Linked DNA regions of Homo sapiens: region 1 is linked to region 2. A link means that fine-mapping ties the variant in region 2 to the expression of a gene that starts in the linked region. Tissue or cell type: whole blood. Region 2 holds a variant in brackets; the other region holds the start of a gene. All regions are shown on one strand. Distances are from middle to middle.

Evidence for each region. PIP is the estimated chance that this variant, and not a neighbour inherited with it, causes the effect.
Region 1: RANGAP1 starts here. The variant in region 2 is fine-mapped to the expression of RANGAP1 in whole blood (TOPMed, PIP 0.98).

What each region holds. Positions count from the first base shown.
Region 1 is chr22:41,284,053-41,289,358 of GRCh38, reverse strand. RANGAP1 (Ran GTPase activating protein 1) reads left to right here and starts at 3,172. Exons shown (of 16, transcript NM_002883.4): 1 at 3,172-3,373. RefSeq lists enhancers at 2,280-2,329, 2,650-2,719, 2,750-2,969, 3,400-3,469.
Region 2 is chr22:41,370,660-41,375,965 of GRCh38, reverse strand. LOC105373042 (a long non-coding RNA gene) reads left to right here. Exons shown (of 3, transcript XR_938271.3): 2 at 792-932; 3 at 3,233-5,306. It also overlaps a transcript of TEF not described here. Among named protein-coding and RNA genes, the nearest start is that of TEF, 8.6 kb to the left of the region's middle. The variant G/AG (reference allele first, on the strand shown) is at 2,488.

The DNA of each region.
Region 1 (5,306 bases), 87 kb after region 2:
TGAGCCACTGTGCCCGGCCAGAAACAGTGATGATTCTTGATTCTTCTGATTCACTGGGCACCCTTGGGCAAACCCCCTGTTCCTTTTCAAACCCCAGTCTCCCCATTTGTAAAGAGGTTTAAGATAGATTCAGGAGGCCGGCCACAGTGGCTCACGCCTGTACTGTACTCCCAGCACTTTGGGAGGCCGAGGTAAGTGGATCACCAGGTCAGGAGTTTGAGACCATCCTGGCCAATATGGTGAAACCGTCTCTACTAAAAATACAAAAATTAGCCGGGCGTGGTGGCGTGCACCTGTAGTCCCAGCTACTCGGGAGGCTGAGGCAGAAGAATCACTTGAACCTGGGAGGCGGAGGTTGCAGTGAGCTGAGATCGCACCACTGCACTCCAGCCTGAGCAACAGAGTGAAACTCCATCTCAAAAAAAAAAAAAAAAAAAATCAGGATATAGGAGTGACAGAATCCAGATTGCTAGGGGGTGCTGTCAGGCTGAGTTTGTGATTTTTAGCTTCGAATGTGAACACCTTCAGGCAGAACATCCACTCTCTAACTCCCCCCAAGCCCCACCAAGCCCCGACAAGCCCCATGACTTCCTGTTACCTCCCAGGTCCTTGAAGGCCACTGAATTTCTGTTGTCTAAGAATTCCCTTCCAGTTCCGAAAACCCAATGTCCTATCAGCTGGATGAGGACGGGATCAGCTAAGATGTTCCCCTGCCCACCTTCCTCTTCCCTTTGGGAGGTCTCTGTGTGAGGGCCAAGGAAAGTCTCAAGAAGTAAAATTGGAAAAGGGAGCCTGCGGATCACCCCAAGGAAAATCCAGACTGATTCGATCAGTCCTAGCTGGAAGCAGCACAGGAATAGCAGGAAGCCTATGACTCATTTTAAGCAAACATCCGGTAACCCGACTGGTATCTGGTTCAAATGGGGAAACCTGAAGCACCTATGACAGGCCAGGCCCAGAGAAGATACTGCCCAGATGGATACAGCGTCTGCTCTGGAGACCCTCCCAGGCTGAGGAGGAAACTGCCAAGAACAGTGTTAACTCTGTCAAAGAGCCCCAGAGTCCCAGGCCAACTGCTGTGGGGCTTTGCATCTTGCTGTGGGCACCTGCAGGAGGGAGAGACTCATGAAGTAGCATTTGACATGGGCCTTGTAGGTAAAAAGGAGAGGGAAGGTGGAAAGAGGATCCACATCTCAGGAACTTTGAGAACTGGGAGAGTTACACTCTGTCTAGAGCTTCAGTTTTCTCATCTCTGTGCTGGGAAGGGTGGTAATGATGCCCACTTCCCTTGTGGTGGTGAAGATTAAATGAGCTGTGTGTAAAAGGATATGGCATGATCTGTTAATTAATTAATTAATTTATTTATTTATTTAGAGACGGAGTTTCGCTCTTGTTGCCCAGGCTGGAGTGCAATGGTGCGTCTCGGCTCACTGCAACCTCCGCCTCCCGGGTTCAAGCGATTCTTCTGCCTCAGCCTCCCGAGTAGCTGGGATTCCAGGCATGCGTCACCATGCCCAGCTAATTTTATATTTTTAGTAGAGACGGGGTTTCTCCATTTTGGTCAGGCTGGTCTCAAACTCCTGACCTCAGGTGATCCGCCCGCCTCGGCCTCCCAAAGTGCTGGGATTACAGGTGTGAGCCACTGCGCCCAGCCTGCATGATCTGTTTAACTTTTTTTTTTTTTCTTTTTTCAGTTTTTGAGACAAGGTCTTGCTCTGTCGCCAGGGCTGAAATGCAGTGGTGCAATCACGGCTCACTGCAGCCTCAAGCTCCCAGGCTCCAGATCCTCCTGCCTCAGGCCCTTAGCTGAGACTACAGGCTTGCACCATCACGTCCAACTAATTTTTGTATTTTTTGTCGAGACAGGGTTTGACCATGTTGCCCAGGCTGGTCTCACACTCTCTCGCCTATAATCCCAACACTTTGGGAGGCCAAGATGGGCAACAAGAGTGAAACTCCATCTCAAAAAAAAAAAACAAAAAAAAAACGCTGTTTGTGTTTTTATGCTTAAATTCACACCTACAGAAAAGTTGCAAAAATGTTCAAAGAACTCCCATATTCTTCAACCAGATTAACTGATTAACATTTTGCCACATTTGTGTCTCTGCTTTCTCTATGTATATGTATAGGTATATTTCTTTTAACCATAAAGGTTGCAGACATCATGTCCTTTTTGTCCCTAATTATTTCAGCATTTTTTTCCAAGAACAAGGGCAGTCTCTTACATAACCCTGTACCATAATCAAAATTAATAAATTTAACATTGATACAATACTATTATCTAATATAGTCAAGTTTTGCTGTTTCAGTATTGTCCTTTATAGCAATCCCCACCCAGGATCCGATCCAGGACCATGTCTTGCATTCAGTTGTCTTTTTCGTTTCCTGTAATCGGCAACAGTTCCTCAGTTTTTCTTTGTCTTACATAATACAGACATTTCCGGAAGGGTACAGATCAGTTATTCTGTACCATGTCCCTCAGCTTGGGTTTCTCATGATTAGACTAAGGTCATGCATTATAGACCGGACGGTGACGCCGTGTTTTTCTCAGTGCATCACACAGAAAGCGTGCGATGAATGTCAGCTTGTCCTGCTGTTGATGTTAACGTGGCCGTTCAAGTGGTGTCTGCGGAGCTTCTCTACGATAGTTACTATTTCCCCTTTTTAATTATCAGGTAATTTGTGCATATTTATGTGGAAGCCTTCGAATGCCCTTTCAGTTTCATGGGACGGAAAAGAGTCTTTTCTTTCGGGAAATGGATACCTGTGTCTTGCCCAAGAGACCCAGCAGCCAGCAGTACCTGTTATCAACAAAGTTACGCGAACAAAACCTTTCCGGAAGAGCTGAGGGACCTGGGTGCAACGCATTCTGGGAATTGTAGTCTCTGGGCGCTCCCGGCTGAACACCTCCCTGCGGTCTCTGCGAGAAAGAGCCAGAAGCCACCAGGGGAGGGCGAAGAGGAGGGCGGTGGAGGACGCTCTGCGCGCGGTGCGCCATGGGACGGGTAGTTCGCGGTGCGCGCCCCATCGCGCTCCCAGATGGGGAACCGGACTACTCTACCCGAGAGGCCGCGCGAGCGGGGCGAGGGCAAGCCGGCCGGGGCCTCGAACAAATCAAATCGAAGCAAAGAAACTGCCGGCTTTCAAAATCCTCCTCCTCCGCCATCATCCGCCGCGGTGCGGAGAGCAGGTGGTGCTGGAAGCGCGTGAGGCCGGGAGCTCGAGAGAGCTAACAGACTAGCCGGCTGGACATCTGGACCGCTGGATCCGGAGGTGGCGACCCCGGCCTGACCCGGACCCTAAATCCGTCCCCGCCCCAGAGGGCGGAGGCGCGCGCTCGATTCCCCCCACGCGGCGGCGCCGCCTGTTTACGGTAGAGTCAGGGTCCCTTTCCTTTCCCCGTCACCTGCCTGGAACAGGGGTGCGGGGCGAGGAGGGCGTGGCGCCCGTGTGCGCCTTCTGCCTGCCCCCTCGGCCTTCTTCACTTAGCCTTCGACGGCCGAGCGCCCCAGGGGTGGCGGTGGGAGTGGGGTTGTTGAGCGGCGCTGGCTCCTTTCACAAATGGGGAAACTGAGGCTTAAAGGGCGTCTGACTCGCCAGAGCAGCTCAGCCTGCAGCTGCTAGCAGTGGCGTCTCATATTAGCATTGTTGTCAACCGGAGGCGGTGCGAGTCCGCCGGGGATTCCAGATGGGGCTCCTGCGCCGCCCGCCTATCATTTGCGGCCTGTATTCGCGCGTCGCTCCCGCAGAGCCACCTCCCAGCAGGCCCACGCCCGCGGGGGCCCCGGGCTGGCGCCGCTGTCCCTGGAATCGATGTGAGTCACTGCTGACGCTTTGCAGGAGCATGCATCTCACCTCAGAAAGTCTCTGACGTTGCTGCGGAGCGGGGAGAGGATGTTTCTCTATTAGCCCTTTGCTTTTGCTCTGGCGCTGATCCTTTGCTGACCTTGGACAAATCAATTTACGTTTCTGTGCTCCAGTTTCTTGGTTTATAAAGTGAGTGTGGAGGGGTGCATCTCTGTCTCGCTCTCTCTTGGACTGAGGAATGGGCCCCCGTTCAGCTGAGAAGTTCTGTCCCTATTCTATCTGGAGGCTTCACCACCACCTTTTACCCTCAAATTGTCCCATCTCAGAACTGCAAGAGATGCTGGGGTTTCAGGTTAATTTTTTTGTTGGTTTTTCTTTAAATTTTTTTATCTTTTTAGAGACGGTCTCCTTCTGTCACCCAGGCTGGAGTGTAGTGGAACGATCACCGCTGAACTGCAGCGTCGGCTTCCTGGGCTCAAGCGATCCTCCCACCTCAACCTCCCAAGTCATGGGGACTACAGATGCCATCACACCTGGCTAATTTTTAAATTTTTCTGTGGAGACAGGGTCTCATTCTGTTGCCCAGGCTTGTCTCGAACCCTGGTCTAAAGTGATCTTCCCGCCTAGCCTCCCAAAATGTTGGAATTACAGGTGTGAGTTATTGCACTGGGCTGGTTTCTGGTTAATTTATTTTTTGAAACAGGGTCTCCAGAAGTACAGCAGCAAGATCTCAGCTCACTGTAGCCTCCACCTACGGGGCTCAAGTGATCCTCCCACCTTACATCCCAGGTAGCTGGGACTGCAGGCACCTGCCACCACACCCAGCTAGTTTTTGTATTTTTAGTGGAGACAGGGTTTCGGCATACTGCCCAGGCTGGTTTCTAACTCCTGTGCTCAATCGATCCGCCCACCTCAGCCTCCGGAAATGCTGGGATTGCAGGAGTGAACCATTACACCCGACTCTGGTTAATTTTTTTTTTTTTTGAGACGGAGTTTCACTCTTGTTGCCCACGTTGGAGTGCAATGCCACGATCTCAGCTCACCCCAACATCTGCCTCCCAGATTCAAGCGATTCTCCTGCCTCAGCCTCCTGAGTAGCTGGGATTACAGGCATGTGCCACCACGCCCGGTTAATTTTGTATTTTTGGTAGAGACAGGGTTTCTCCATGTTGGCCAGGGTGGTCTCGAACTCCCGACCTCAGGTAATCCACCCACCTCAGCCTCCCAAAGTGCTGAGATTATAGGCGTGAGCTACCGCACCCGGCCTGGTTAATTTTTATTTTATTTTATTTTATTTTATTTTTTTGAGGTGAGTCTCGCTCTGTTGCCCAGGCTGGAGTGCAGTGGCGCAATCTCAGCTCACTGCAAGCTCCACCTACCGGGTTCATGCCATTCTCTTGCCTCAGCCTCCCGAGTAGCTGGGACTACAGGCCCCCGCCACCAGGCCCGGCTAATTTTTTGTATTTTTAGTGGAGACGGGTTTCACCGTGTTAGCCAGG
Region 2 (5,306 bases):
ATTGAGCTCTAAGAAAGCCCGGTTATCTGTGTCTTTTGCGCAAATCAAATGCAGGAGGGCACGATGCTTTGTTCAGGGTAATAACCCAGTAAAAATATACTTTTTTCTCTTTTTTGAAAAAATCCCCACCCTATCAGTAAATATTTGTTGGCTTGCTTTGTTCTTGGTACTAGTAGGACAGTTAACCAAACCTTTCAGAGCTAAATGATATGCATTTGGAGCAATTTTTTTTTTTTTTTTTTGAGACAGAGTCTTGCTCTGTTGCCCAGGCTGGAGTGCAGTGGCGCAATCTCGGCTCACTGCAAGGTCTGCCTCCTGGGTTCACACCATTCTCCTGTCTCAGCCTCCCAAGTAGCCCGGCTAATTTTTTTGTATTTATAGTAGAGACGGGGTTTCACTGTGTTAGCCAGCATGGCCTCGATCTCCTGACCTCGCGATCCGCCCGCCTCGGCCTCCCAAAGTGCTGGGATTACAGGCGTGTGCCACCACGCCCGGCCGCATTTGGAGCATTAATAACATCAAATAACAGGCATTGTGTTTGATTCACAATTGAACCTGGAACAGCAAACATGAGCCATCCTTTGGCAAGTCTGCCCGCACAAGCCTTGCCAGCAGCTCTCCTTTTTAGCCCACATACCTGTGCCTGGGCTCTGTGGTTTGTACCCTCCTTGGTCTCAGTGTGTTCCAGGGGAGAAGTGGTGGGTGGAGGCTCTTTACTGATTCTTGCCCTCCTCGTCAGTACTCTCAAAAGTGCTAGTTTCCTGTTTGTCTTGCATTCTGTCCGCTACCAGGGCTTGGTCTGCAAATGGAGAGCTCCCTCAAGAGTGCCCTTTCCAGAGAGAAGCCCTCACCTCTGCCCTGTGTGATGTCTCAGAAGCCACTACCAGATAGCCACGGTTTCTGCAGTCAAAGACGTGCTGGAGGGGACAGAGGTGGGCCTCTGGAGCCAGACCCCCTGGGGCTGACTCCTGCTTCCACTTTAGTCGGCCCTTGAACAACAGGGGTTTGGACTGCATGAGTCTACTTACATGTGGATTTTTTTCAACAAAAGTTACACTAAATTTGCCTGCCTCTCCTGCCTCCCCTTCAACTTCTGCTACCCTTGAAACAACAAGATCAACCCCTCTTCTTCCTCCACCTCCTCCTCTTCCTCAGCCTACTCAATATGGAGACAAGGCTGAAGACCTTTACAATGATCCACTTCAACTTAGTTAAGATTCTGTTATGATTTTCTTTTCTTTTTTTTTTTTTTGAGACAGTTTTGCTCTGTCCCCCAGGCTGGAGTGCAGTGATGCTGTCATAGCTCACTGCAGCCTTGAACTGCTGGTCTCAAGCAATCCTCCTGCCCCAGCCTCCAGAGTAGCTCGGATTTCAGGTGTGCACTGCCTTGCCTGGCTAATTTTTTTTTTTTTTTGAGACAGAGTCTTGCTCAGTTGTCCAGGCTGGAGTGCAGTGGCGCGATCTCGGCTCACTGCAAGTTCTGCCTCCTGGGTTCACGCCATTCTCCTGCCTCAGCCTACCGAGTAGCTGGGACTACAGGTGCCCGCCACCACGCCCGGCTAATTTTTTTTGTATTTTCAGTAGAGACAGGGTTGCACCATGTTAGCCAGGATGGTCTCGATCTCCTGACCTTGTGATCCACTTGCCTCGGCCTCCCAAAGTGCTGGGATTACAGGCGTGAGCCACCATGCCTGGCTTGCCTAGCTAATTTTTAATTTTTTTGGTAGAGACAGGGTCTCACTATGTTGCTCAGGCTGGTCTCAAACTCCTGGGCTCAAGCACTCCTCCCACTTCAGCCTCCCGAAGTGCTGGGATTACAGACGTGAGCCACTGCGCCCGGCCATGATTTTCTTAATAACATTTTATTTTCTGTAGCTTACTTTGTTGTAAGAATACAGTATATAGGCTGGGCGCGGTGGCTCATGCCTGCAATCCCAGCTCTTTGGGAGGCTGAGACAGGCAGATCATGAGGTCTGGAGTTCCAGACCAGCCTGGACAACATAGTGAAACCCTGTCTGTACTAAAAATACAAAAATTAGCCGGGTGTGGTAGCATGCGCCTGTAGTCTCAGCTACTCGGGAGACTGAGACGGGAGAATCGCTTGAACCCTGGAGGCAGAGGTTGCAGTGAGCCGAGGCCACACCATTGCACTCCAGCCTGGGTGACGGAGACTCCGTCTCCAAAAAAAAAAAAAAAAAGTCCGGGCGTGGTGACTTACGACTGTAATCCCAGCACTTTGGGAGGCCAAGGCAGGTGGATCATGAGGTCAGGAGTTCAAGACCAGCCTGGCCAAGATGGTGACACCTCGTCTCTACTAAAAATACAAAAATTATCTGGGCGTGGTGGTGGGCGCCCATAATCCCAGCTACTCAGGAGGTTGAGGCAGGAGAATTGCTTGAACCTGGGAGGCGGAGGTTGCAATGAGCCTAGATCACGCCACCACACTCCAGCCTGGGCGACAGAGTGAGACTCCGTCTAAAAAAAAAA[G/AG]AAAAATATACTATCTAATACATATAGCATACAAAATATATGTTCATGGACTGTTGATGTTATCTGTAAGGCTTCCCATCAACAATAAGCTATTAGTGGTTAAGCTTTTGGGGAGTCAAAAATTATATGCAGATTTTCTACTGCATGGCGGGGCAGCATTCCTAATCCCTGTGGTATTCAAGGGTTAACTGTATTTCTTGGTGACCTTGGACAAATTGTTGAACTTCTCTGTACCGTGGTGTCCGAAGTAAAGTAGTCCATTCAGGCACAGTGCTAGGACACCACCTGGCCTATAGCATGTGCTCGGTCAAAGTTAACTCTACTGTAATTCCTGCTTGGGTTGTTCTGGGGATACCTAATTTCTCCCCACCAGCCACTTCCCCAAGAATAGTGAGTGTGAGGGTCCTTACAGACAGGGAGATGAGAGCGTCACTCCTCTTTATGACCGTCAAAGCTCTGCAGGTGCTCGCCCTTCGGGTCTCTCCAGCCTCACCTGGTACCCCTCTCCCCCTTGCTTGCTTTCTGCAGCCATGGTGGCCTTTTATTCCTCAGACCCGTTTTCTTTCCTGTCCCAGGAAGGGCCTTTGCAGGTGCTCTTCCCACAGCCTGAAAGTTCCTCGGGTAGCTGGCTCTTCCTCACCCTCCAGGCCTCCAGGCCTCAGTTCAAATGCCTCTCCCTGGGAGAGGCTGGTCCTGACCACCACCGCCTCCTGCCTAAACACAGCAGATTCTCTCTCCCCTCTAGAATCCAAACACCAGGGGAGCAAGAGTAGAGTTGGTTTCATTCACCCCGGGCTCTCCAAGCATAGCAAACGCTCTGGAAGCACGTGATGAGTGGCTGGGTGACGAAGAGCTACGACCCGAGACATGGTACCCACATGGGTACCCACCCTATGGGTAGACACGAGCCTGGTGTCAGGAGGAACTGGGTTTGAATCCTTCAACAACTGTGTGGCCTTTCCTCTCTCTGAGCGTCGATGTCCTTATTCGTAGAGTGGATGATCATACCTTCCTTGCAGAGCCATTGCACAGATAGTGACATAGGCACACACAATACAGTCCTGGCTCACGCTCAGGAGACAGTGGCTGTCAAGTCAGGAGCCCGTCCTGCAGCAGCCTAGCCATCTGGAAGGATCACTCCTCGACATGCCGTCAATGCCTGGCACTTGGTAAGAATGAGTTTCTCACATTTCTCTGAAGGGATGGGGTGGGGGGCAGGTAGAGAAGAAGGCTCTGGGCACCTAGGGTGGGAAGGAAGAAGAGAGAGACTGGCCCTGAGGGTAGCCAGTGCCTCTTTGTTCATTTTCTCACCAGAATAACAGGGGAAATATACCATTTAGAAAGAGGCAGTGAGGATTAAATGAGCTAGCATATCCAGCACATAGAAGGCCCTCTCCCCATCCTCGTCCCTGAAAGCAAACTCCTCGATTTCTCAGTTTTGCTCTGGTTCCCAGGCTGTGCATGGAGGCAAACACAGGGCCCTTCACTCAGGCCAAGCTCAGGAGAGCCCAGGCTGCACCGAGTCCACACTCTCGGCTCATTTCCCTCAGTCCACCAAGAGGATGACACCAAGGCCCCCTCCTGTACCCCTGCCTCTGCCCCAGCAAGTCCTACTGAGATCCTGCCTGTTATGAAATGGGGCTGTCCCATTGGGTGCAGGGCAGATGGCACCATGCCTCTAGGAGCCTCAGCATGTGTTTCCAAGGAGACAGCCGTGTGTGTGTGTGTACACACCAACTTGTACCATCCAGTTCTTCAAAGGAAGGTGGAAAGAAGGGAATGAGGGTCAGGTTGCAAATGGGATGTAGGTGGAAGACGCACGACGCCAGGCCATGCTGCTGTTTGCCTTTCACAGAAAAAACCAGCACAGCATCTCACGGTTTGCAGACACTTTCACATGGGATAACTCACTTAATCTTGGCAACAAGCTCATGGCACAGATATTCTTTTCCGCTTTTTAAAGTCTGGAGATGGAGAGAGAGGGGGGCAAGTCCCAACCAGTGGGTTGTAGAATTAGGATTTGTGGCCTGACTCTGATCATAAGCCCCCTGCTCTCTTCCCAGGGCCACACTGCCTTGCCTAGAAAGGATTCTAGATCAGGAGTGCCCCTACGTGGGGATGCCGCCTGCCCAGCCCAAAGCAAAGGCCTTGTTCAGCCTTTGAGGTGTATGTTCCGGCTTCACAACTCCCTGAAACGGAGGCCTGAGTGACCGGAGATGGCAAGAAAATGGGAGGAGGTGTCTCTAAGCATGGCCAGGGCCCCATGGGAGAGGGAAGTATAGGGTATAAAATGCTAATCATATGATTTAGAGACACAGTGTCTTTCCAGAAGCTGGAAGAGAAAGACGTTAAGAGCTGGAGTGAGCAGTCTGGAACAGAATCAACTCTTGGAAAAGTATCCTTGGGAGACAGGTTGGGAGTGAAGACAGGAAGAGTGGTTTTCAGGATTTAGGGCCCAGGGACATAGAGGGGAAACTGAGTCAGGGCTTGGCTACAGACCCACCCTTTTGCTGGAAATGGATTTCTCTGCCAAAAGAGAAATTGTTTGAACTCATGGCCTAGAGTGAAGGCCACCAAGAAGCCATTGTCGTTGGAAGCCAAGGGAGTCTGGGAGCTGGTCAGCTCTGGTGGAGAAAGTCTGTTTATCCAGGGACAGGAAAGAGGCAAGGTCTACACGGGCTGGGCTGGGAGGCCCAGGGGCAGCACGAGGGAGAGGGACCCCAAGTCTGGGTTTCAAGGGGCATCAATGAACTAGAAAACGGAATGAGGCTGGGTGCAGTGGCTCACGCCTGTAATCCCAGCACTTTGGGAGGCTGAGG